Regions from separate parts of the Homo sapiens genome. Here region 2 is linked to region 1. Evidence: fine-mapped expression QTL. A gene starts in region 1. The other region holds a variant in brackets. All regions are shown on one strand. Distances are between the middles of the regions.

Region 1 (2,901 bases):
AAGTGGCCCAGGCACCAAAGACAGAGAATAAATACTTTCAACAAACTCTCAATGTTGAAGTCATCAGCTCCAACTGGGAATCCACTCTGGTCGCTGGCTGACTCCATCCCCTGAATCCTAGATTTTCTCAGTGTGGGAGAAAGAGTGGACAAGTAAGTTCGCCACCATTTTCTGCACTTCTCAGCCCGCTCCCAACAGGGCAGCAGGAGATAAATAGTTACACAAGGGCAGTGAGGCTGTAAGGCCGTTTGCCAGACACGAGGAAGCATTGTAACTCCTTTTAAAAGTATATAATCTGAGTCCGTAGCGTTCCCCAAAGTTAACGGACACCTTCCCCTGGGATGGGCCGGGCCGCCTCTCCGCAGCAGACACGTTCTGAAGCTGGCTCATGCGTGTCCATTCTGACGGTGCGAATGCCCAGCGTCCAAAGTTGCCTTGCCCTTAGTGGGAACCTCCCGGGCCTCCGGGAGCCGCAGCACTCACGGGACTGCCGCTGCACCGCCGCTGCGGGCGAGTGTTAGGAACGGCCTTCGTGGCAGGAGTGGAGATGTGATCACCAAAACTCCCGCGCCCCGGGCTCCACCCGCCCACGGGGGTGACGCTTTCCCCGGGGGTGACGCTTTCCCCGGGGTTTCCACGGCGCCTCCCCGGGCGCCGGGGACCGCACTCCCCGGACCCCCTAGAGCTGTCCCTACGCAGATCTCCTTAGAGCGACGCGCATCTGGGATGTCTTGGGTGCCCGGGCGCACTGGTCTAGCGTTGCGGGGTGGCCAGGCTGGGAACCAGCCCTCCAAGCGCCCCGCGCGCCCCCAGCCTGGCCCGTCTGGGGCCCCCGAGGGAGGAACCCCGGCCTGGAGAAGACGACCCATTTCGGAGCTCCGACGGGGCCCCGAGTTCGGGCGACGCCGAGCGCCTCACCTGAGCGGGACACAGATGGCCAGGTATCTGTCGACTGCCACGGCCAGAAGGCTGAAGATGGAGCTCTGCGTGAGCACCAGCACGAAGCAGGCGAGGAAGAGGCAGCCGTAGAAGTCAGTGCAGAAGCCCAGGCTGATGGTGATGGCAAAGGGGATGGCGAAGAGCCCCACGGCCACGTCGGCCGCAGCCAGGGACACCAGGAAGTAGTTGGTGGGCGTCTGCAGAGTGTTCGCCGTGCCCACCGCGGCGCACACCAGCACGTTGCCCGCCACCGAAAGCGCGGCGATGACCAGCTCCAGCGCCACGTACAGCGCGTCCTGTGTCTCCAGCAGCATGGCCGGGCCAGCTGGGCCCCGGGCGCCCCCTACCGAAGGCGCGCCGGGCGAGGGGCAGCCGCGTGAGACCCGCCGGGCATGGCCATAGCGCCCGGACCGCGCCTCCGCCTGCCGCTTCTGAGCCTCGGGGCTGGGGCGCTGGTGGCCGGGACCCACGGGTCGGGGCCCCCCGCGGCCAAGAGGCGGCACCCATTGGCCCGCGCGCCCGCCCGTCTCGGGCTGGGCGGAGCACCACCCACTCGCCCGAGCCCAAAGTTCGCGCCCGCGCGGGGCCCCTCCGGTCCAGGCGCCGTGCCGCGTCTTGGTGGCGGCGGATAACTAACAAATTGCCCCAACTTCCCGTCACGCTCGAGCTCGGAGGCTGTGTCCCAGTGCTCGCACTGCCTTCCAGTCCGGGCGACTCCTGGGATGGGGCCGGGCTCTGCCCGGGGCGCCAGCAGGTCCCAGGAGCCGCCGCGAGAGGACCCCCCAGGGCCGCGCAACCCCGGGCGGGGCGAGCTCACTCCAGGCTAACCCTGCGCACCCCGGGCAGGCCGACTGGATGGGGGGCTGCCGGGCAGGCAGGGAGCCGAGGCCGCAGTCCCCGCTCGTGCAGCAGTCTCGGGCAGCGCAGCACCACCGGAGCTGTCTCCAGGCTGCGGGGCCGGACTGCAAGGAGCCCTCGGGGGCTGCAGCCCCCTCCGGCCGCCTCCCAGCGAGGCTCAGCGCTGTTCTCCACCCTCGCCCGCGCCACTGCCCCTACGGCCCCGCTCTGCCTTCTACCTTAAGACAAGCTCGTGGCCGTCCCATCCTCGTCCACCGCCCGAAAATACCAGTGTTCCCCGGGCCCTCTTTTTTCTTTCCTTCACACTCACCCTGGATCGGCACAGGCTCCCGAGGCCTCCCACGTGGCCCTCACACCCTTAACTCCCAAATCTCTTGCTTCAGCCCTAACAGCCTCCTGAGGGCCAGATCCTAACACCCCACTGCCGACTCTCGCCAGGAGAGAGACTGGTGCCCCCAAATCCAACAAGACCAAAACCAAGCTCATCTCTAATTCTCCCCAAACCTGTGCTGCCGCCTTTTCCTGGGACCCTGTTCGTTATTGACCTGGCAACCCTCACCCACCCTAGGAAGTTTGCTGACACCCTGAGCCTTCGCCTTTCTCCACGTCCCAATGATCAGCAGTGCTGCTGGTTCTGCTTCCAGAGACTTGCTTCCTTTTACCCCCAAAGTCCTGCCCCGAGTCCCTCCTCACCACCTGCTTCTACCATCCCTCCCTCTCTGCCTGTGGGTCCTCAGCTTCTGCAGCCCTCACCAACACCATTGTTCTAGAGCACTCCTGGCCACGCTATTTCACCACCCGAAAGCCTTTGCTGACAGTCACCAAAGAGGATGGGTAAGGAGATTTTCCAGCAACAGGAAAAGATGCTTGTAAAATCATGTAAAGCAAAAATCAAAACATGGGGTGACTGCTAAAGGGTAAAGGATTTTGTAAAGGATTTTTTAGGGTGATAAAAATTTTCTCAATGTGGTGATGGTTGTACGGTTCTGTGGATATACCTCAATGCCACTGAACTGTACACTTGAAAGGCATGCATTGTGTGGCACATAAATTATATCTCAATGTAGCTGTAATGACGACAACATGGCTCACGCCTATAATCCC
Region 2 (2,901 bases), 33 kb after region 1:
TAAAAGCAAGCTGTGGCTAACTTTTCCCATGTTCCATTTTCTGTTTTGCTATTTTTCTGATATGAGGGTAATGATCTGGTTTAAAGGGTGATATAAATAGTAACCCAGATGGACATATGGGAGGGGTGACGGGACCGGCCCTTTGGCCAACACTGCAAGATGTCCAGGCCAAATTTTTTTATAGCATATTTTTCATAATCTAGAAAAATGTTGGTAAGGTTTTAATAAGGCAGGTGAGTCAAGTTACAATGTATGAATTTAATGAGTTTGGAAGGTTCAGAGATTCTGCTTGGAAATGTATTGTGTCCATTCATGATACCATAAGTGATAGTAGCAGAGAAAGAAGGAAAAATGACAAAGGTCTTAGAATGGCCAGGTTTTGAGTTTCCCTCCAGGGGTCCTTCTTGTTTGCAATTCTGGGATTTTCACCATCAAGCTGGAAAAGCTGGAAACAACTGTTGACAAGACTGACTGCAGCTCTGAAACCAGGCTGGATGCGGAGGTGTTTATTCCTTGAGTTCAGTGAAGAATTCCAAGTCAGAATGACCATCAGTGGGAGCTGGATATTTCCACTAATTAATCAAAAATTATCTATTTAGCAACTGTTACACATTAGGCTGTAGCATTTTGAGTCAGTAAATACACAGCTCTGCTTCCAAGGAGCTCAGAGTGCAGGGTGTAAATGCACAGCCTAAGAATCCAAGCCCTTCTGGCTCAGGGAAGGAAGAGCCAGCTGTGGGCCAAGGGACACAGGGTGGGCAAGTGCCATGGGCTTCTGGGCAGCAGAGACCATTGCCACAGACAGTGCAACAACAGATGCCTCAGGGGGCACGTTGGGAGCCTCTCACCTGACACCTCATTTAATACGACCACTTTCTAGGGTGAGTGTTTTCTCTCCATCACCATCTGACGAATCTAGGCTACAGAGGCGCAGGAATAAGCCCTGGGGCTTCAGTGCAACTAAGTGGCCTGAAGCCAGGTACCTGTAAAGTGTGTGTGCTCAGACAGCCCAGGCTCGAAATGTCCACAGATGATGCTTCATTCTTGTAGCAGTCTAGGCCACAGGATGGGAACCTCCCTAATGGGGCCCAAACAGTGGCAAATACGGAAGAGATCGTCCCAAGTGCTAAGTCATTGGCCCTCCATAAAATGCCCATGTGTGCGTGCGTGTTTGTGTGCATGTGTTCACATATGCCTGCATATGCATGTGTGAACCACTGAGCAGCTGAAGACAGCTGCAGGTGATCAGATGTTGGGCAAACGAGACGTGGTATCTCCTGGACACAGCTTCTCTTGTCACCTGACAGCCCAAGAGGGAAGTGAGCCGTGGCTGCTATCCTGGCTAGGTGATAAGTGATGATCCCTTATCCGAGCCTGTGCTGTCTGAGAAGATGCAGAGGCCCTAGGGAGAAAAAGGCTGGGATAGTGTGGCTTCCCTGGGAGGAAAAAGTGAACACTTCAGGACAGGCAGCCTCATTGCCCTGAAACACCACCTGCATTTTTTTTTTT[A/TA]ATTTGATACAGGGTCTCCCTCTGTCACCCAAGTGGGAGTGCAGTGGTGCAATCATAGCTCACTGCAGCCTCAACCTCCTGGGTTCCAGCAATCCTCCCATCTCAGCCTCCCAAGTAGCTAGGACTACAAGCATGTGCCACCAGGGCCTGGCTTTTTTTTTTTTTTTTTTGAGACAGAGTCTTATTCTGTCACCCAGGCTGGAGTGCAATGGTGCAATCTCGGCTCACTGCAACCTCCACCTCCCAGGTTCAAGCGATTCTCCCTGCCTCAGCCTCCTGAGTAGCTGGGAATCACAGGCCCCTGCCACCACACCCAGCTAATTTTTGTACTTTTAGTAGAGATGGGGTTTTGCCATGTTGGCCTGGCTGGTCTCAAACTTCTGACCTCAGGTGATCCACCCGCGTTGGCCTCCCAAAGTGCTGAGATTATAGGTGTGAGCCATCACACTCAGCTGGCCTGGCTAATTTTTAAAAAAATTTTCTTGCAGAGATAGGGTCTTGCCATGTTGCCCAGGCTGATCTTGAACTCCTGGGCTGAAGCAGTCCTCCTGCCTCGGCCTCCCAAAATGCTGCCATTACAGGCATGAACCACCATGCCCACCCACCACGTGTTATTTCTATGGACAGGACATGCCATTTCTCTTCTACGTGCATGTCTATTGGCAAGTAAAATGGCAGTCAGGGAACCTCCTTGAGTTATAAAAATAAGTTGCACATGGCCCTTCTTTCATGTGATGTTTCTTTCCTTCTTGTTAGCCTAAAGGGATCAGGATAGAGACCAGAATGGCTGAGTTTGGCTAAAGTAATCAGCAACTTGGGCTCCCACTGGAGAGGGGCTGGTATGGCTCCAGTGTGGAAGGAGGGAAACCACAACACCATCCAGCATAGAAACTGCTTTGAGCAGAGCTGGTTCTAGATCATTTACATGTAATCACTCAGAGCCAATCACAGTAAACACTGACTCCGGGTATCCCAAGACCACAACTGCCTCCCCACATAAACCCCTGGAGTAATTTCAGCTTAAACCCAACAACCAACAACTCAACCACTTGGGATATTACTTTCCCCCACTTTAATAGCAGGCAAAGTAGAAGCACAAGGAGAAAGAAAAATGCATCGATTATGTCAACAAAAGACAGTTGCGTGAAGCAGCACAAGTAATAACTCTCGGGTTGAATTGGTTCTGACGGTGCCTCAAGTTTCACTTAAAAACAAAGGCGCGGGTGATATAATGACCATCGCCAAGCAGTTGCTCAGGAGCTCCCACAGGCTGCCTGCCCTGGGGCCACCAGGGAGATCCCTGCCCCACTTAGTGGTTCTCCATGCAGCTGTGCATTGGAGTCGTCTAGAGAACTTTCAAAACATGTAGACTGCATCTCTGGTCCCATTCCA

Alleles and levels. Alleles are on the strand shown, and positions count from the first base shown. SD is a standard deviation of normalised expression in the study named.
With allele A in place of TA in region 2, the expression in monocytes of the gene that starts at base 1,372 in region 1 is lower (large effect, 1.0 SD a copy in Quach 2016).

What was found. PIP is the estimated chance that this variant, and not a neighbour inherited with it, causes the effect.
Region 2: its variant is fine-mapped to the expression of ADORA2B in monocytes (Quach 2016, PIP 0.94).

The regions. Positions count from the first base shown.
Region 1 is chr17:15,943,601-15,946,501 of GRCh38, reverse strand. It overlaps ADORA2B (adenosine A2b receptor), which reads right to left and starts at 1,372. Exons shown (of 2, transcript NM_000676.4): 1 at 919-1,372. The coding sequence starts at 1,253. RefSeq lists an enhancer at 555-1,369 and a silencer at 1,197-1,816.
Region 2 is chr17:15,910,993-15,913,893 of GRCh38, reverse strand. It overlaps a transcript of ADORA2B not described here. Among named protein-coding and RNA genes, the nearest start is that of ADORA2B, 33 kb to the left of the region's middle. The variant A/TA (reference allele first, on the strand shown) is at 1,510.